Linked DNA regions of Homo sapiens. The protein of the gene in region 1 interacts with the protein of each later gene in a pairwise test. Each region holds a gene or a part of one and is shown on either strand. Other genes may lie near its edges.

What was found.
Region 2: the proteins of VEZF1 (region 1) and VPS52 interact in binary tests that used the Homo sapiens proteins (3 or more experiments, as listed by UniProt).
Region 3: the proteins of VEZF1 (region 1) and RBPMS interact in binary tests that used the Homo sapiens proteins (3 or more experiments, as listed by UniProt).
Region 4: the proteins of VEZF1 (region 1) and LZTS2 interact in binary tests that used the Homo sapiens proteins (3 or more experiments, as listed by UniProt).

The regions. Positions count from the first base shown.
Region 1 is NC_000017.11:57,971,242-57,978,288, forward strand, and holds the end of VEZF1 (vascular endothelial zinc finger 1), read right to left. Parts: intron 3,660-7,047; coding exon 3,232-3,659; 3' UTR 311-3,231; downstream 1-310. UniProt on the Homo sapiens protein: Possible transcription factor. Specifically binds to the CT/GC-rich region of the interleukin-3 promoter and mediates tax transactivation of IL-3.
Region 2 is NC_000006.12:33,249,778-33,254,923, forward strand, and holds the end of VPS52 (vacuolar protein sorting-associated protein 52 homolog), read right to left. Parts: intron 5,114-5,146; exon of another isoform or gene 4,921-5,113; intron 2,195-4,920; coding exon 2,083-2,194; intron 1,930-2,082; exon of another isoform or gene 1,860-1,929; coding exon 1,741-1,859; exon of another isoform or gene 1,736-1,740; intron 1,211-1,735; coding exon 1,064-1,210; 3' UTR 501-1,063; downstream 1-500. UniProt on the Homo sapiens protein: Acts as a component of the GARP complex that is involved in retrograde transport from early and late endosomes to the trans-Golgi network (TGN).
Region 3 is NC_000008.11:30,569,494-30,572,756, forward strand, and holds the end of RBPMS (RNA-binding protein with multiple splicing), read left to right. Parts: intron 1-1,143; coding exon of another isoform or gene 1,144-1,237; 3' UTR 1,238-2,763; downstream 2,764-3,263.
Region 4 is NC_000010.11:101,002,768-101,008,340, reverse strand, and holds the end of LZTS2 (leucine zipper putative tumor suppressor 2), read right to left. Parts: coding exon 5,395-5,573; intron 4,835-5,394; coding exon 4,175-4,834; coding exon of another isoform or gene 4,073-4,174; exon of another isoform or gene 3,865-4,072; intron 2,884-3,864; coding exon 2,626-2,883; intron 1,857-2,625; coding exon 1,173-1,856; 3' UTR 508-1,172; downstream 1-507. UniProt on the Homo sapiens protein: Negative regulator of katanin-mediated microtubule severing and release from the centrosome. Required for central spindle formation and the completion of cytokinesis.

The DNA.
Region 1 (7,047 bases):
GGGTCCTAGAGCATGAGAAGAAATGTTTTAAACCCATCTTCTCTTTTGGGTAGGACAGGGACCTAAACCTGTGGCCACTGCCTCCATCCTAGCTTCCTGGGCCTTACCTGAGCTGCTTGGGAGGGTGCACCTACCAAGGGCAGTCAGTCTGGTGCCCTTCCACCCTCCAACCAGCCTGATACTGGTCCCTCCCTCTCTCTCCAACCCAATACTGAGATGTGCGCACCTGAAAAGAAAGTACTTGAAAAATTCCTCTATTATCAGAGCAAACTGATGAAGCTTCTGAGGTATTAAACAATCCATCATAACATTTGTGACCAGTTAACTTTAATTTTCAAAATAAATCTGCAGTATTTTGCATGTTAGTAATACAGTGCTGGTATTGACAGGTAAAATCATCATCTGCTTACATAGAAACCTTCATTCAGGAGCACACCGTAGGAGGGGAACGGATACACAATAAAAAGCAAACGCAGGCCAAGCAGCGAGCCCTAGAGCGTAACAGGCTGGATGTCAGATTTAAGGATTATCTAATACAACTGTTTAGCTGCCAATCTGATAAAGGGGAAGCTCTCAACCAGGTTACAACCAGAAGGGAAAAACGTACTCTGCCTTTTCGTAGAGCAGTGGCTGTCGTGCCTTCAACACCTGGTTGAATCAGTTCATCAACATCGAAACTCAATTCCAGTTCCAAGACACAGAATTTCATCACACAACCTATTCGGTACCCCTTTTCAGTGGCCCACCCAAAACCCCCTCCTGCCATCGACTCTCTCCCTCCCAAAAGAAGACATGACGTGGCTTTATTATTGCAGACAAGCTTCTTAAGTGAATAAAGAATGCATACAAAATAGTATTTTAACTGAAGTCATACAATGAAGTCTCACTCCTGTTTATTATACAATGAATTGATAAAACAATTACTTCTAGTATATATCTTTTTTTTTTTAGAACTAATACTTTCAGGGTTCTGACAACCACATTCTAGCTTAGGGGTAGGGCCCACACCTGCCCCCACTGAGGACTGCTCCTTGGACCACTGTGGAGGAAGCCTGGGCTGTCTGAATTGTGAATTATGACTGCCAGCCCACCAGAGATAACAGATCCCAGCAGGCAGAGCCAGAACCCAGTTTTGGGTCTGCATGCCAGGAAATGTGAACTTCCTCCAAATGTGGCCACTGTGCCTCCCAATCCAGGCCTCAGCAAGGTCATTCTTGGGCTTTCCCTACACGAGTCCTTCCAGTAGTCCACACATAATGCTCTACATATTAAAAACAAACCATTTTTGTACTGTGGATAAGAACAGTTGTAACAAAGTCATAGCTACATATTTTTCTCTACATTTTGTTTATTGAGACAAACTAATTAAAAGGCACAAACATAGGGCATGTTTACATGGACATTATAACAAACATATACATTAAAAGTGTAGGAATGTGTTGCCTTCCTGCTAAACAGAAAGTTCCTAAGCTTTTATATATACAAAAGTTGTACAATTTAATGTCCTAAAGTACAAAAGATCATTTATAAAATTATTTTACACTAAGTACTATTTATTTTATTTTTTTACTATGTAGTTCAACCCCCTAGAACTGTTTTGTATAATGACACACAGATACCTGTCCCTGATGTAGGAAGTCTGTCTCAGATGCAAGGTATTTTGATGCTTGAACTGACACAGTAGGGTATAAATGGAAATCATCCAGTTTGATAGTCAGTCCTGCAAACATTCTGCAAGATTAACACAACTAATTTCCATTTCTCTTAACTGCAATGATTAAAAAATGAAAAAAACCAAAAACATATTGCAACTTAAAAAATCACAGCATCTTGGTTTAGTTAATTTTTTTTTTAACGCAATGCTTTAAAAACAATGCGTGGCATGATGGTGTAAAGAGTATCTGTTTCCCTAGCTTTTGGTTTCTACTTTATGTACAGAGATAAAATATCTTGCTAAGAAATAAAAAGCACATGTCTCAACGTGCATAATCATTGCTGGGTTTCTACAGGGAATGCAGACAGCTGTCTCCCTGAAAACACCACAAAGCTGATACAAGTGTTTTCTCAAAGAAAAAAAAAGTGATGTCCATATTTACAAAGTTGAACAAATCTGCGCAATACTTAAGAAACGGAAGGAGAAATTTAAAAAAAGATACACTCTGCATGTTCTGAAGGGGCATACACTACCTAGTTAGTGGTTAGAATAAAAACTGTATACAATTTAATATAAGACATAAACTCTAGTGAGCAACTAACACATCTGTCCCTGTTGTAATATCAACAGGCTCTGATTGGGAGAGAGAGGGGCATATCACATCCCAGTGCCTCCAGCGTCTTCCAATTTAAAGCAATATATTTGTACTGTTCCAAAGTACTCCTTGGCTCCTAAATAGGAATCCCACTGGACTCTGTTTATTAGGAGCTTGCCTGTCCACACACTTGACTTCTCCTCTGTCAGTTGAGGCTTTTCTTAGCAAAACACAATTTGTAGATTTTTTTTAAATTTTTTTTTTTTTTAAAAAGTCAACTACAATGCTATATTCCATCGGGATTAATATGCTGAGCAATATTTACATCTCCAAATATCAGGTCACAATCCCTATTATACGTTGAAGTTAGAATGATAAATTATCATATGCTTTGCATATCAGAGCTGGTATCACCTTTCCCATAGGGAATGCTGCCTGAAATTAACATATTCCCAAAGGTAAAATGCATATTCTCTGAAATGCATTTTATTATGACAATGCATGTATTTACTCATAAAAACAATAAACACAGACAATTCTACACTAGCTCTCAATCTGTGGATTTAAAATTTCAGGTTAAAATCAGCCATCCACCTTGTATAGGGAGAAGAGTTCTGCTAGTGTTTACAATAAAGTGATTCCTTGGGATTAGAAATAGTAATGCTGTTTTTTTATTTTGAAGTGGGTTCTACTTATGATTGGTTTTAATTCTGGCATTTCATCTTGCCAACTACTATCCTGTTTAAGCAATGTTGTCAGCTAAAAGGAATTTCTGATTAAACTAAAGTGGTCCAGTGATAAGTTACATACACACCCTACTTTGAATAATCCCAGCCAAATTGGAGAAAAATGCTACCACACTCTTATTAACTAATGTAATAAAATCTCCCAATTTCATGGTTTACTTTTTGCTTTAATCAACTAAAAGTTAAGTTGCTGGTAAATATTTACTTTTACCCATATTTTGATTTTATAATACTGTTTACCAAGGCGGTGATGTAGGCAAAGCTTGGGGCAAGAAAGGCATGCTCTCTACAGGTCTCATTGCTATATTGAGAGGGGCGGCTAATGTCATAGGTGTGGGTAGATTCATTGGAGATGTGATGGTGACAGGGTGTGCTATATTCACTGGGGCAGTGACGGGGGTGGGGAGGTTGACTGGGGTAGTGAGTGTTAAAGGAGAGGTCATGGATAATGGACTGGTTATAGTTACAGGATGCCCTATGTTCATTGGGCTGGTTATGTTAACTGCACTTGAAACATTTACTGGACTTCTCATGCTCATTGCAGCTGCCACTGTGACTGGGTTTGACATAGTCCCAGACGACACAGAGGATGTTATACTGAATGGAGTAGTGAGAGTCACAGGTGTCGTAGCAGCCGTGGAGGTTTGGCACAGGTTAGCAGCTTCTAAAATAAGAAGAAAAAGGGTCTTTAGATTCTCAAAACAGTGAGCAAAATTCACAAAGTTTCTGAATCAATTTCTTTTCATTAAAAATGTCAAACATTTAATAAATCAAATTCCAGTTTTCTATCAAGCGGTCAACAGAACAGAGGATCTTTCTGAGCACAAGCCTGGGGGCCAGGGATCCCAGTGTATGAATCACCTTCTGATGCTATACCTCCTGCAAGGACTTAAGCAACTTGTTTAGCCTTGCACTTTAGGTTTCAAGTTCAGATTTACTTACCTACCTCACAGTGATGCTGAGAGGATCAGTTAACTTCTGCAATGCAGGGCTAAGTGTTCTCACTACTACTTCATGCAGTTCCTCTGAGTTCTAAAAACTTTCTTGGGAAGAGCCAACCTCCAGCAGGCCAGGCTAAAGAGCTTGTTTACACAGAGCTGGGCCAATGGTTACACAATAACAGATAATCAGAAAAATCTTCTCGTAAGGCACACTGTAACTAGCAGAGAGAGGTGTGCATACTCAATAAGTATGTTAAAGCCTGAGACATGAAGCCACATTCTGTGAAGGTTTTAAAAATGCATAATTGGGGAATGATAAACAAGCTATTTTAGTATCATGTTTGTTTCAGTTTTAGAAATATGTTTCAGTTAAATAATCTTATTCTTTCTGGTTATGTTTCTTAACTACATTAGGAAAGAAAAAAATACTCCTCAATAAGTTCATGTTCTCCTCACTCCCATTTCTTCTTGTTTCTGATGTTGACACAATCACCTATTTTATGCCTAGTATCTTTAACTCTACATATTACACATACCACCAAGCATACCAAAGAGAACTAGCTAGGCAAGGAGACCCTGCAGTGAGTTAGAGGACCCTGGTCCTTCTTATCCAACAAAACCTGGACACTTTTTTTTCTGAGACAGGGTCTCCTTCTGTTGCTCAGGCTGGAGTGCAGTAGCATGATCAAAGCTTACTGCAGCCTCAAACCCTCAAGGCTCAAGCAATCCTCCCACTTTAGTCTACCAAGTAGCTGGGACTACAGGTGCATGCCATCACGCCCAGCTAATTTTTGTGTTTTTTGTAGAGACTGGGTTTCGCCACGTTGCCCAGGCTGGTCTCCTCCTAGGCTCAAGCGATCCGTCCACCTCAGCCTCCCAAAGTGCTGGGATTAAGGTGTGAGCCAGGTCTAGACACTTCTTAAAAAATACTTCCCCTCAAGGTGACATCCCCAACCCACCCCTCAACAAAATTCAGCACCAGAAAACAGCAGTAAAATGATGGGTAGGCTAGCTGTGACTTGGCTATCAAAATGGAGAAATATACTTGAACTAAAGATAGAGATCTGTATATGATCCACAAAGGTCTTATCACCGCAGGGGGACCCTTGAGTCAAGCAGCCCTTACTTGATCAATACAATGTAACTTTGGCACACACCATTCTCCCTATCAGGGATTCCCAAATCTGGCTGATTATCAAAATCAACTATCTAGAGGACTTCAAAACAAACAAACAAACAAACAAAAAAAACCCAACAAAACAAAAACAAAGGACTCCAGGAGAATCAATAGTGAAATTTAGATGGAACTTGGGAAATGTGTATTTTTAAAAAGCTTCCCAGACAATATGATTGTCGATCAGGTTTGAAAACTTATGTTACCTTATTTAGGCCTAATATTTAAAGGACGTTATAGATTCAAGCTTAGATTTTCAGGTCAGGAGTCTCCTCTCCTCTAAAATGTGACATTTACTAACATGAATACAGAGGTTTCTAAGATCAGTGGTCTTTTTGAGAGAGATTCACGCTACAAATGGGAATACAATAACATTTTGTTTCATGGAAGTCAGAAGATGAGCTAAACAACCAAGTCTTATTGTGCAAGCAAATTGAAATACAATACCAAATAGAGGAGTACACCGAGAGAGATTGAGAGAGAAAACCAATTCACTTTAAGGTGCTGGGAGTATTGCTGAGGATATTCTCCACCTGCTTTCACCAAAGAATTTTTACTCTCTTATCTGCTGACCCCCTTACCTCCTCCTCCGTGTTTTCTTTTTAATCTAAGAGTGTCCTTTTACTATGACTTAAACATTTTTACTCCTTCTCTAAGTAAAATACCCTTCATAATATACTTTCAACCCACTATACAATTATCACAGCACTACACTTTTTCCTCCCCATTGCCCGTCCCCTCTCCCCATTCTAACACAAAAGTTCATTTGTTTTGTTTTTTTTGAGATGGGGGTCTCAATCTGTTGTCCAGGCTGGAGTGCAGTGATGCAATTGTAGCTCACTGCAGCCTCAAACTCCTGGGTTCAAGTGACCCTCCCACCTTAGCTTCCTGAGTAGCGGGGACTACAGACACGCACTGTCACGTCCGGCTAATTTTTTGTTGTTGTTGTTGTTTTTGTAGAGATGGGGTCTTGCCATCTTGCCCAGGCTGGTCTCAAACTCCTGGCCTCAAGTGATCCTCCCACCTTGGCCTCCTGAAGTGCTGGAATTATAGGTGTGAGCCATCACACCTGGCCAAAACATTTTATTAAAATAATGACAAATCTTCAGATGGAAGCTAGGAACAAGCAGCACCTGAGGAATGATGAAAAGCCTATACGGACTGCTGCATTCTTTTCTTCCAATGCCAGTAAATGTATGAAAAAGAATGTCGCCAGGGCCCAGTAGCTCACGCCTATAATCCCAGTACTTTGGGAGGGTGAGGCGGGCAGATCACCTGAGGTCGGGAATTCGAGACCAGCCTGACCAACATGGAGAAACCCTGTCTCTACTAAAAATACAAAATTAGCTGGGCGCGGTGGCACATGCCTGTAATCCCAGCTACTCAGGAGGCTGAGGCAGGAGAATCGCTTGAACCTGGGAGGCGGAGGTTGTGGTGAGACAAGATCATGCCATTGCACTCCAGCCTGGGCAACAAGAGCAAAACTCCATCTCAAAAAAAGAAAAAAAAAAAAAAAGAATGCTATTCCTTTTATTTTTATCCAAGTATAGGAGGTTTAGAGATCACTCTGGCCAGGTGTGGTGACTCATGCCTGTAATCCCAGAACTTTAGGAGTCTGAGGCGGGTGGATCACTTGAGATCAGGAGTTCAAGACTAGCCTGGCCAACATGGCAAAACCCTGTCTCTAGTAAAAATACAAAAATTAGTCGGGTGTGGTGGCACACACCTGTCGTCCTGGCTACCCGGGAGGCTGAGGCACAAGAATCACTTGAACCCAGGAGGCGGAGGCTGCAGTGAGCCGAGATCACGCCACTGCACTCAAGCCTGAGCAACAGAGCGAGAGACTCTGTCTAAAAAAGAAAAAAAAAAAACAGAAGGGATCACTCTGAGGAAGGGAAGAGCCACACTACATGAAAGCAAAAGATGGAAGAAACTAC
Region 2 (5,146 bases), on another chromosome or scaffold:
CTCTCTTCTTAGGCCTTAAAGGGGTCCCCGTGTCTCTCCAGTCTAGAGCCTAAGTTCAAACGAGGCGTATAGGCGAGGACAGCAGGAAGGCTCCAAGTCAAACAAACGGATGGTACGAATTTCGCCTGGTCTAGCCCTGCCCCAACGGTGTGGGTGTGGGTTGGGTGCTGCAGCCCCCGAGCAAGGGGCTGTCACAGCCACAACCAGAGGAGCTATGGAGCTGCTACGGAGGAGGGATTCCAGAGTCAGCTTGGGCTTGTCCCAAGGGAGCCCTTGGGACAGTGTCTGGGGCTGCGCGGCCTGGTTCTCATCCCTTGCAGCATCTGCTATTTTAGCCAGGGGCCACCTTCCTCCAATGGCCTGGGAGTAGCTAGAGGTTAGAGGTTACACCCACCAGAAGGGATGTAAGCCCAGGAAGTAGTCAGAAAGGAAAGGTCATTCTAGAGATGGGGCCACCTGAAAAACCTTCAGGAGGAAGGAGAAAGGAAATGGGATAAGTGTCATGTCATACTAAATATTTATTTTCTGCAGACTGACTTCGGAGTAATTCTTGAGCCAGGAGGGGAGAGGTTAGTGTTCAAATTGCTGAGATCTTAGGTCAAAAAGCTACAGAAAAGAAATCACTTTGAAAAACACAATGACTCAGAGGCAGTCACCCCTTGCCAGCAATTCCAAGAGCTGAGGAGGCTTCATGCCTCAGGACATGGTGACTAGTTGAGTGAACCAGAGATTGAGGCAGTGGTTTTTACAGGGGAAGAAACAAGCCTTGGGTGTATGGGAGCAGGAAAGGAGGGTGACAGACTGGAGAAATGATAAAGGCCATTTTGGAAGCCCACAGGGAAGTGGTCTTGGGAAACCTGAAGACACTGGGATATTCAGAAGGCCAAGGGGATCCAGCTTATCCTGTTGGGCAAGGTGCTGGGAGTGAAGGCAGGTAAGCCATGTCAAGGGCCTGGGAAGCAAGGGGAAAACTGGAAGGGGTACCCCAGGTGAAGAAGGGTATGGAATGGGGTGCAGAAGTCCATGGAGATGACCGGCAGATCTCAGGGCGGTTTCTGGCACATCAGAAGTTGGGCTTATGCTTCTTGAGCTCCACCATAAGGTGGTGAATGTTGATGAGCTCAGCCCGGGCAGGGAGGGCTCGGAGCTGCGGCTGGGACAGCACCCGGTGGAAGCGATGATAGAGCTGGATCAGCTGGGTCAGCGCTCCCTGGTCAAAGAAAGTCATTGAGGGATCAAACCGTAAAATGGTGCTAATAGTGATGATTAAGAATCAGGTTAGGCGGCCAGGCGCAGTGGCTCACACTTGTAATCCCAGCACTGTGGGAGGCCATGGCGGGCAGATCACGAGGTCAGGAATTCGAGACCAGCCTGGCCAACACAGTGAAACCCCATCTCTACTACAAATACGAAAATTAGCTGGTTGTGGTGGCAGGCACCTGTAATCCCAGCTACTTGGGAGGCTGAGGCAGGAAAATCACTTGAACCTGGGAGGCAGAGGTTGCAGTGAGCCGAGACTGTGCCACTGCACTCCAGCCTGGACAACAGAGCTAGACTCTGTCTCAAAAAAAAAACAAAACAAACAAAAAAAAAAGAATCAGGTTAGGGCTCATACAGAACTTTGGGCACAGCTAGTAACTGAAGACCAAGGGTCACTTAGATGATGCTGAGCCCAGCAAAAAGATGGGGAAAATAATTAATGATGGGGGATCTGAGTGGGGCCTGGGACTTGCAGGTCACCTGAATGATACTGGTGCCATTTCTGAAGTTGGTGAAACTCCGCATTACATCCTGACTCAGAGATTCCACTGATGATTTCCAGGAACTACCAAAGCCACGGATCAGCTGAGTTACCCGGGCTAATAGCAGGAGGAAACAGTGTCAGAGAGGGATCTGGCTGATCTTCAACTCCACTAAGTTCTCCCCAAGGTATAGCCATCCTTATCATCAAACCCTCTTTTCTGGTATTCTCTCAATCCAGTCTTTCATACTCTATTCCCCCACCATGTAATCTGCATCCTTTCATTTTTCTTTTCCACTTCCCTTACCACTGATCCCATCATTACCATATTTTCCTCATACCTTCTTCCCCTCGAAGTCGCTCAGCCTGTCCACGCTCAATCAAAGCCTCAGCCTCCTTCACAAATGCCACTAAACCCCCAAAAGGGGGAGACAGCAACTCTTCAATGAATTCCTGGAAAGACACAAACACATATACACAGGTGTCCTGGTGTCAGCAGATTTGCCCAATTCTGGCATCATGACTAATGTAGATCCATCTGAATGGCATCTTTCAGCTGCTGCAAAAGTTAAGGAAAATCCTCTATGGAGAAAAATATCCTCAATCCTAATTTTGGCCCATACAGTTCCCCTGGTTAAGATCAAACAATGAACTCAAAGATCACTAGACACAAAAGAAGGGCAGCTACCAAGAGAGTCAGCAGACACAATAAGCAATAGCTGCTGACCTTAAGAACTATCCGATACGGATAGCAGTTGTACTGTGTGCAATGTCTAAAGTTAAGGATAGGCCGGGCACAGTGGCTCACGCCTGTAATCCCAGCACTTTGGGAGGCTGAGGTGGGCAGATCACCTGAGGTCAGGAGTTCAAGACCAGCCTGGCCAACATGATGAAACCCCATCTCTACTAAAAATACAAAAATTAGCTGGGCATGATGGTGGATGCCTATAATCCCAGCTACTCGGGAGACTGAGGCAAGAGAATCACTTGAACTTGGGAGGCGGAGGTTGCAGTGAGCAGAGATCATGCCACTGCACTCCAGCCTGGATGACAGAGCAAGACTCCGTCTCAAAAAAAAAAAAAAAAAAAAAGGATGTAAAAATGACCAATTAGTAAGAACTATGAGGAATGAACAGACTTGAAAAAAGGAAATTTTTTTAGATATGAAAAGCCAGTTTTAGAAAGTCAACAGATTAACAAGAATTATACAATGAATTAGAATTTATAACTGAAGAAAGGACTCAGAATGTAGCACAGACAGAAGATGGAAAATTTTGAGATAGTAGGAGATACAGAAATCTAATTAATGTATCTAGGCACTGAAATTGATGGCTACTAACATCACAAAGAGAGCCAAGAAGACATTATGTGCTTCCTGATGGAAATACATACCACTACCTCTCAAATATCCCTGTAGAAAAAAAAAAACTAATTTAAATCTGACCAAGCCTTTCCATCTAATTACACACTTATGAGAAATACACCAGACAGAGGAAGTTTGGCCACACCATGGAATGCAGTCAGCAAAATCTAAACTGTACATCATTCTAGATGACAAATGACTCAATAACTCAGTTTCTTCCAAAAATAAATTGCAGAGGAGATGGAAGGGAAATCTATAGACTAAAAAAAGACACATATATGGACTTTATATGGATCCTGATTTGAACCATAAAAATCATTTATGAAGGCCAGGCACAGTGGCTCATGCCTGTAATCCCAGCATTTTGGGAGGCTGAGGCGGGTAGATCACCTGAGGTCAGGAGTTTGAGACCAGCCTGGCCAACATGGTGAAATCCTGTCTCTACTAAAAATACAAAAATTAGCTGGGCGTGGTGGTGGGTGTCTATAATCCCAGCTACTCAGGAGACTGAGGCAGGAGAATTGCTTGAACCCGGGAGGCAGATGTTGGAGTGTGCCAAGATCGGGCCATTGCACTCCAGCCTGGAGGCAACAAGAGTGAAACTGTGTCTCAAAAAAAAAAAAAAAAAAATCACTTATGAAATAACTGGGAAAATCTGAATAGTTATTTTAGATAAGATAATTTTTTTAAGTGTGATAATGTATTGTAGTTTTTAAAACCATCTGTTACCAGGTGTGGTGGCACACACCTGTAGTCCCAGTTACTTAGGAGGCTGAGGTGGGAGGATCACTTGAGCCCAGGAGTTCGAGGCTGCAGGGAGTTATATCATGCTACTACACTCCAGCCTGGGCACTACAGCAAGGCCCTATCTCAAAAATAATTTTCTTAATAAAAATAACATTCTGATACAGATGAAGTGATAATATTCATCTGTATATGTATAAGATTTAATTCAAAGTAACTGGGGGACACAGAAGGAGGATAAGCAATAGGTGTTGGTATAGATGAAACAAAACTGTCCGTGAACTGCTATACACCGAATATCACTGATGATGCCTGGGGGTTCACTATGCTTTTCTAATAGCATAGTGAAATTTCCCATAATAAAATGTTAATTTTTGTTTAATGTAAAAGGGAGATTCAAACAAAAAAACTCATAAAAGCAAACAACCCAGACAGAAAGATCTGGTAAGAAGAAAGTGAAATTATTATTCCATTTAAAAATAAATTATTAATACTAAAATTAGCCAGGTGTGGTGGTGCATGCCTGTAACCCCAGCTACTCAGGGAGACTGAAGCAGAAGAATCACTTGAACCGGGAGGCAGAGGTTGTAGTGAGCCAAGATCATGTCACTGCACTCCAGCCTGGGCGACAGAGCAGCAACTTGTCTCAGTAAATAAATAAATAAATAAATAAATAAAAATTGTATCTTTTCTATTCTTCCCTCAAAATATTCACTTATATCCACTGAGGGTGTCAAATAACTAATATGCTGCAAGGAAGGATCTTTCTATAATCAAGGCATCTTTGTGATGTGATTTTGGACAGAGATTAAATAACCAAATTCAACCTATTACAGTTGCCTAAATGCAGTCTCACACACACATATACAAACAATAATGTAGCAGTGTACGGTGGGGCACAGGGAGTAGACTTGCCAAAGAAAAGTTGAACTAACAGTGATGACCCCTGCTAGGCAGGAGCCATAAATTATATAATGTGTTGTAAGCATGATATATACACCTGATTTTGAAGACTTCATCTTAGAATAAATTTTAAGTATATCTTTTTTTTCTTTTTTTTTTTCGGAAACAGGGTCTTGCTCCATCACCCACGCTGGAGTGCAGTGGCACAATCACAGCTCACTACAACCTCAACTTTCCTGGCTCAGTGATTATCCCACCTCAGCCTCCTGAGTAGCTGGGACTAACAGGCATGTGCCAACATGTCCCACTCATTTTTTTTTTATTTTTTGTAGAGATGGGGTTTCACCATGTTGTCCAGGCTGGTCTCAAACTCCTGGGCTCAAGCGATCCTCCCT
Region 3 (3,263 bases), on another chromosome or scaffold:
GGAAGTAAGAACAGGCACGGCACGCTCTGCTGAAAGTAGACTGCGGCCAGGCTTTTGAAGGCCTTGAAGGATGTGTTAGGGATTTGGAAGCCACTGGAAAGATGAGCAGGGGTGGAGAGTGATTTAGGAATGTTGTTGTCATGCTGCCCAAAGCAAAGTAGATGAAGATTCGAGGTAGAAGCACACTTCTGCACAGGTGGCCCTAAGATGGTGATGGTGGAGTGGAAGGAGCAGATGAGCCAAGAGGACAGGAAATGAGGTCGGTGTAAAGGGCAGGGACAGGCCAGGGGTGCACAGGGATGAGTCTGGATTTGGCTGCCTTGAGGGCTGTCTACAGTAAGCATACTTAAGCGGATGTGCTAGAACTAATGTCATTATTTATTTGCCACAACCTAAAGAGACAGGCAAGTATTAGTCGCCCGTCACAGAGAAGGTCCAGGGTGTCCAGGGCCCACTGTGGAAAGCTCTGCCTGGCTTGCCCCTGCTCCGCCGGCCGTTACCCGCTACCCACTCATACTGTCGTCCAAAAACTGGGCAGTGAAAAGTCACAGGTCAGATACAAATTGGACAGATTTGGTGTGAACATTTACAAGCTCATCCCGTACGCTATGTTTCAGTGGTCACCTAAATATTCTCATTTCAGGACTTTTTAAAACACATTTTCCCAAATCTAACTTGGGACAAAATCTAACTTGGGACATTTAAATAGGTTATCAATAATTATCTGTTTATGGCCTCTTTCGGCACACAAATAAGCATCTCCCTGTACAAAATTCTAGTGTATGCTGAGCTGATTGATTGCCTTCTGCATACACCTTTTCTACAACTTCTCAAACGTGTGTGACATGCTGGTAAGATGGCAGGAAAAGGAGTGACTGAATAATACAATATAGCTGAGATGTGTTTCAAGAAAACCTCTGGGCCAGGGTAGGGGTTTGTGAGCGGGAGCCAAGGACTTGCCCCATGTTTCTAATCAAGGTGAGACCACTGACACATGTGGTCAGCAAATATGTTCTATACACACATCCGCACACTGTCATCTAACCCATCCGTTCTCCCATCCACAGCATCTCCAGGACAAAGCCATCGCAACTAGGGAGGGGTTGACACCTGCTCTCCTAACATGTTTTCTTTCTGTTTCAGGCTTGAAAAACCCTTGCCCAGTTTTGATCCCTTCAAGACTTTGTCACAGCCTCTATCACACATCTGTTTTTCTCGAAGAAAAAAATATAATTAATAAAAATGTTTTACTCTTTTACACTGTATAATTGTAAGAAATAGCGTATTATTTGTGAATGCATGGTCTGAAATTTCTGTACAGTTTGGAGATATTTTCAAACGAAACGTAAGAGAAGTCAACAATAAAACCAAGAAAAGTGAGTATTTTTATACCAAACATTTTAAGTATGCTGGGATGGACGATCTTACACTGGTTTGGATCACAGTTTTTGTTCTTGACTTTTGAATGCTTGTAATTAAAAATATCTATTTTTTTCCTCTGAAGTAAGTTGCATGTTTGAGGCATGTTTCCAAATATTATCAAAATATCCTGAATTGTATTGTGAATATATAGAAATCTGTGCCTGGCCGGAGTCCAGGGTAAATTAGTAGCATGGTGTTAGATGTTAGAAACAGAACTGTTATTTGCAGTGTTAGGTCTAGGATCCCAGTTCTAGTAGGACAGCCCTGCAAGACAATCAACCAGAAGCCTCCAGGAGCTTCTACCTATGGCTTATTCACAACTGGGCAAGAAAACATCATTGGTAAGAACTGCTGAGTGTGCCCTTAGAAAGCCCTAGTAGCTCCAGCTGTGACTATATCAACTGTGTGCCAAGTGTGACTTTGTACAGTTTTATGTTTCCACTCTCCTGTATGTGTAGCCACTCGATGCCTAACCTACCTTCCACAAGCCAGCCCCGCATCCCTGCTCCCGCAGTGTAAGTGCAGAGCCTGCCTCACTGGTAAGGGAAAACCTTGGCTTGGGAGGCCAGCCCTGGCCCTTGAAGGGGTTGGCTGTGCCCAGCCCACCTGGCTGCAGTGGGCAGCTCATGTCTGTATCTCCAAAGTGATGTTTGTTTGCAAAACACCGGCTGAACTGAGCTGGTGTTGCCAACTCTTGGCAGCACTGGGCCAAACCGACCACATACCATGAGCTCCCAAATGGCGTGTGCTCACTGTGAGACGTCCTGCCACACCCCACAGGAGACGGAGGCAGTGGGCATTTGGAACCAATTCTATTCAGACTTCGTCAAAGCCAAAGTCAGTCTGGTGTTGTCAGTTGACACATCTCCAGAGTTCATGACAGCTCAACCTCTCCCCTTGTACAGAAGCCATTTTTGTAAAACCACACTGACCTAAATTCAGCTGCCAAACACAGTCTTTCCTATTGATCCGCTCGGCTTATGTTGAAAATTTCAATGTCATGATTACCTGGTTGGTTTGGGTTTTTGTTTTGTTATTTTCCATTAGAAATATAAAGATGTCAAGAAGCTTTTAAAGGTCAACACAAAAAACCAAGGCCAGGAGTGAGGGGCTCTTTCTTACCGTAAATAAGGGGAAAAGGCAGTTAGCTCAAGGACTTGTGACGGATCCACTTTGGTGTTCAAGGACCTGCTTATGCCCTCAGTGCCAATCGGCTCTTGGTGAGATGACTGTACTCCTAAGGAAAATAGCCACTTCTGCAGTCTATTATGCTTTTATAACTGTTTAAAGGTACTTTTCTATTGTCATTTTTAAAAAATAAAGTGCTTATTCCAGCTGTCACACCATTGCTTGACAAATTCTTTTTTAGCAAGACCAACTACATGTATCCCACACTGCAGACAAGACGCCAGCAGATTTCATTCCCATTGTCAGGCTTCGGCAGAGCTAAGCAAGCATTGGCCATTGAGCTTAGGCACAAAGAGATTAAAGGAGGAAGCAGATACCGGGGAAAGCCAGAGAGTAAGTCTGCAAACGCACAACCACAGTGGCTGGTGACCCACAATGACACCAGAGGCAGAGGGACCTCAAGGGAGGCCCCTCATCTACCTCAGCCTACAAAGCTTGACTCAGGATTATCTGAATTATATTAAAATGTCACTTGGGTTTTCTGCTGACTTAAATATATCTTACGCCAGGCATGGTGGCTCACACCTGTAATCCCAACACTGGGAAACTGAGGCAGGAGGCTTGCTTGATCCCAGGAGTTTGAGACCAGCCTGGACAACACAGCAAGACCCTCAATTTTAACATTAGCCAGGAGTACTAGCACCTGTGGTCCT
Region 4 (5,573 bases), on another chromosome or scaffold:
GGCTCACATCTTTCCACTTTCTTCCCTCCTCAGCTGTCATTAAGGCTCTGCCTTAGTGTCCAAGGACAAGGTGCTAGTGGGCAGCCTGTGTCACCTGCACTCACTGCTCCCCAACCTCCCAAGCCAGGATAGGGGGTGAGAAAGCCAAGGTCTGGAGCTTGGGATTGGTGGGCACTTTCTCACATGCTGTCCCTTATGAGTCGCCCAAGCCTCCAGGGACACAGACTCTCAGACAGGGCCCTGAAGGGGTCAATGCATCCATTCCTCAACCCCAAGCAGCATTCTGTGCAAGGAAACGGATGAAAGGCTTTTCTAGTCCCTGAAATCCTGAGAGATCATTTCACGTTGGGGTCCACTAAGACCTCAGACATTCTACTGGATTTGTCCTTCCTCCATCACCTTTTCTCCCCAAGAGAGCTCTATGAGGGGGAGGAGAATAGCCAGCAAATGGTGGGGGGGGGGGGGTCAAACAAGTTCCTGTACTCTTTATCCAGCACATTCACATTATTTTTAAACAAAAAAATTTTTTTTAATTTTTTCTTTGGGTTTGTACAAGAAATTTACAGTGTGAAAAATATACAAGTGAAAACGAGGCCATAAACCTGGGTGAAGGGAGAGGCTGCTTGGTCACAAACACAAATAAACAAGACATTTCTGAGTTCTTCCTTTGGTCTGACTTCAGCCCCCTCACTCCAGGAGAGAGGCTGCAGAGCTCAAACCTGGGAACCGAGCCCAGGCCCGGCCCTGTCCCCCAATGTGGGCAGGCACATCCGGAGCAGCTGGTGCCATCTGGCTTTCTCTGGCTTTGGGGTCGGGGGGAATGTGAAGAGGAGGGAGCCCCTTCTTCTTCCCTGCTCCCCTGGCTGGAGTGGGCTGGAAGCGCCTGTGAACAGGGTTGGCAGTGGCACTGGCAGCGGTGGGGAATGAAGTGGGTAGTAACAAGAGCCTCTGGGTAACAGTGAACACGGGGACCTTTGAGCGGTCTGATCTTGCTCCTCCAAGTCATAGGGCCACCCTGAGTTCTTGGCAGAAGCCCAGAGGCCTGGATCCTAGGAGACAAGTGGCTTTGGGGCCCTCAGCCTTTGGGGCCATCCGTGGACCCTGGGGCCTAAGTGGATCTGCAGCTGCTGCCCCTCTGGCAGAGCTCCCTACAGAGCTGGTTGCTGAGGGCCCTAGATCTCAGTAGCAGTGATCTCCTCCAGGCAGATGCAGGGGGCCTGCTCGGCCAGGCCCAGGTCAGCGAGCTCCCGGGCCTCCAGCTCCAGGCTGAGCTGCTGCAGCTCCTGCTCTAGCTGCCGGTTGCGCCGGTACATCTGGATGTAGTTGTGCTGCAGCTGCTTCTGGTAGCGGATCACCTGCTCCTTCTCTGCCTGCCAGGCCAGCCGCTCCCCCTCAAAGCTGTCCCGCTGCTCCTCACCCCGCCGCCGCTCCCGCTGCAGCTCCACCCGCAATCGCTCCACCTGGGCCCGCAAGCTGCCCCCAACCCCGGCTGCTGCCCGCTGCACTTTGGCCTCATCACTCTCTGCCAGGAGGAATGGGTCAGCGGTGGCAGGTGGCACAGGGGGCTCCCGGAGTCCGGCCGCCTCAGCATCCAACTGCCCAGCTTTCTCCCGCAGCTGCTCAGCTTCCTGGCGGTGTCGCTGCAGCTCCTGGGAACAGGCTTCCAGCTCCAGCTCCCGAGCTCGGGCGGCCTCCTGTAGACCCCGCGCACGGCCCTCACTGACCCGCAGCGTAGCACGGGCCTCCCGCAGCGCCACCCGCAGAGCCACCAGCTCGCTGCCCTTCTGCACCAGCTCTGCCTGAGACTCTTTCAGCTGCTGCTTCAGCAGGGAGATCTCGCCTGATTTCTGGCACACCTGGGGGTGGGAGGAAGTGGGGAAGGATGGTGAGACAGGTTCTCCTGGGGGGACAGGCCCTGCACATCATGCTGGGCATTTGGGAGAGAAGAGTCCATCTTTATCCCCATTTTACAGATGGAGACACTAAAGCAAGTCTAGTGACATGTCCAAGGTCATACAGTTAAGATGGGGCTTAAGTGGAAAGCAGACCTAGAACTTTTTGCTTCAAAGCTGGTGTCTTCAAAGCATCACAAGACACTGCAAGTACCACCAAGCCCTGGGGACTGGGGACTGGGGACTGGGTCCTGGCAAGTGCTGCAGGAGTGGGGACAATGGAGGGCAGTGCCCAGGTGCCTGCTGGAGAGGTACTACAGTGACCTAGTTAAGAGCTCAGATATTGGAGCCAGACTGCCTGGGTTCAGATTTGGGGCTTCAGCCTTTATGGGCCTCAGTTTACTCATCTCTAAAATGGGGAGACTAATGGTAGCCCCCTCAGTGTTGTTATAAGGATGAAATGATCTGTTCCATGTAACATGCTTAGAATAGTGCCTCCACACCACAAGCACCACATTCTTACTACTGGCTGGAAGCGTGGCTACGTGCCACTAGACAAGGCCAACAAGGAGACCCCCCTCCCAGAAAGGGACAGAGGGGAACCTCATCTCACGGAGGTGAGAAAGGGGAGGACCTCTGGGGGTGGCAGGCTGAGGGAGGGTGGGGCTGGGCCCCTTTTTCCAGGGTTTCTCCCTGTGTGACCCTGCTCCCTGCCCCTCCTGGTCTGGCCCACCTCCCACTTGGTCTCCTCAAGCCTCGGCCCGAGCTCCCGCTGCTCCCGCTCCAAGGTGGCGCAGCGCCGCTCCAGCTGTTCGCGCTCCTGCAGCAGCTGTGCGAAGTCGTCCTGCAATTGCCGCTTCTCCTGCTGCAGCTGGAACACCTGCAGCTGCAGCAGCTGTTGGGCCCGCTGTGCCCGCTGTGCCTGGGCCGCACAGTCCTCTCGCAGGGCCTCACGCTCTCGCTGCCAGTGCCGCTGCCGCTCCTCGTATGCCTGCAGGCGAGAAGAGAGACCTGGCTCCTGGGCAGTTTTCCCAACTCCCCACTCAGTGTCTGCTCTGGCAGCCCACTTCCGAGGGCTCAGGAAGGGTGGATTCCATTAAACAACAATAGTAATTGCAACAACAATACTAACTGCTTTTATGATGATCATAGAAACAAACACAAGAGCAAGCAGACCGGGCTCGGTGGCTCACGCGAGGTGGGTGGATCACTTAAGCTCCGGAGTTCGAGACCAGCCTAGGCAACACAGCAAAACCCTGCCTCTCCAAAGACCAAAAATTAGCTTGGTGTGGTGGCATGCGCCTGTAGTCTCAGCTACTTGGGAGGCTGGGGTGAGAGGACTGCTTGAGCCCAGGGGGTTGAGGCTACAGGGAGCTGAAATCACGCCACTGCTCTCTAGCCTGGGTGACAGAATGAGACCTTGTCTCAAAAAATAAAAAAAGCAAGCACTTGGCCGGGTGCAGTGGCTCACGCCTGTAATCCCAGCACTTTGGGAGGCCGAGGCAGGTGAATCACTTGAGGCCAGGGGTTCGCGACCAGCTTGGCCAACATGGTGGAAACCCTGTCTCTACTAAAAATAAAAAATAATAAAAAATTTTAAAAAAGGCAAGCATTTATATAGCACTTCCTAGGTACCAGGCATTAGTCTAATCACTTTACACCTTTTGCCTTATTTAATCCTCATAATAATCCTACGAAGCTAGAAATATCCCTATATAGATGAAGAAATAAAGGCTGAGTAAAGTTAAGCAACTTGCTCAAGCCCAAAAACTAGTATTTGGCAGTGGGAGGTTTGAATCCATGCACTCTGACTCCTTTCCACCCCACAAGTTTTGTTTTTTGTTTTGAGATAGAGTCTTGCTCTGTCGCCCAGGCTGGAGTGCAATGGTGGAATGTCAGTCCATTGTAACCTCCTCCTCCTGGGCTCCAGTGATCCGCCCACCTCAGCCTCCCAAGTAGCTGGGACTACAGGTACATGCCACCACACTTAGCTAATTTATTTTTAGTAGAAATGGGGTTTCCCCATGTTACCCAGGTTGGTCTCAAACTCCCGAGCTCAAGCAATCCGCCCACCTCGGCCTCCCAAAGTGCTGGGATTACAGATGTGAGCCACCACACCTGGCTACTCCACACATTAAACCAGACAACTGGTGGGGAGGGCAGGGGGGTCACAACTACAACTACCCAACCCCCGTTCCCTGCCAAAATGGAAATGCCGCTTGCATCCCAGGGCCTTGGGATGTCCTGCCATGCCCCTTCCCCATCATTGCCTCTGACCACACCTGGCACATGGTAGCCTCATTCTCGTCCAGACTGTCCCGCAGCTGCTGAAGCTCTGCCTCCCGGTCTCGGAGCTTTCCTTCCAGGACACAGTGCAGCAGGGCCTCATCCGAAGGAGGTGGAGGCGGGGGTGGTGGTGAGCGCTCCCCACAGGAGCTGCTGTCAGGGGAGGCCCGAGTACCACTGCCCAAAAGCCCCCCAGCCACACGGCCCCCTAGGGAGCCTGTGCTCTTGCTGGAGGAGGACCGGCCACTGTCTGAGTGGGAGGGCCCAGTAGGGACCCCTCGGGCTGGCCCAGGCAGTGCCCCTCGCCCAGAGCCATGGGAAGGCAGGTGCCCGCCTGGGGAGCTGGTGGTTGGCTCGGCACCTCCGGTGCTGTAGGTGGGCAGGCTGGACAGTGAGTTTCGGCCAGAGTCGGATAGCGTCCCTGATGGGCAGCCACTGGCCCAGCCACTAAATGCCAGGGGTTTGTCAGCAGCTGAAGAGGAGGAGGAAGAGGAGGAGGAGGAGGCAGGGCCCCCAAACAGCTGCGTCAGGCTGCCCTGGCTCCCAGACAGCCCGGTGGCCCGAGGACCCATGAAGCTAGGCAGGGACGGAGCCCCTCGAGGTTTGGGCAGCACTGGCTTGAAGGCTGTTGGGCGGATCAGGATCTTCTCCATGTTCTGAAATGAGGTGCCATGTGACACTGGAGATGAGCTGCCCAATCTTGCAGAGCCCTTATGACACTCCCTGCCCTCCCGTCTTGGGTCCCCAGTGCCCATATATTCATAACAATTGCGGCCACTGGTGGAGGTGGCCACCAGTGTCAGCTTTGTGTCAAGCAATTTGAAAAGTTTATCTCCATTATCTAAATATGATCACTATCCCCATATTACAGATGAGGAAATGGAGGCTCAGCAAGGTTAAAGGCCTTGCCCAAAGTCAAACGTATAACTGGTGCAGAATAACCAGAACGTAAGCAACTAGCACTTACTGCGTACATGCTACGTGCTAGGCACTATGCTATACATTATTTGACCTTCATGTCAGTTCTAGAAACTGAGGCTCAGGTTAAGTGACTTCCCTGAGGTCACACATCCAGAATGAGAGAGAGCTGGGATTAGGACCCAGGTCTGGTGAATCTGGAGCCCACACTCTTTCCTCTATATAAGCTTCTAAATTCCAGTTTCCCAAGCGAGGACTCCCGTTCTACCCAGGCCCACAAGGAAGAGCCGGTCCTCACCTTCTCCAGCTTTCCAGAGACAGGGATGAGCTTTGGTGGTGGGCCGCGGAGGTGGGCATTGTGTGCCCGCTGCTCTCGGGCATCCTCAACATCACTGCTTGGGCTGGGGGGTGACTCTGTCCGGAAGTCCTCATTGATGTAGGTGAAGCTGGTGACAGGGACAGCCTTCCTAGGGGGCA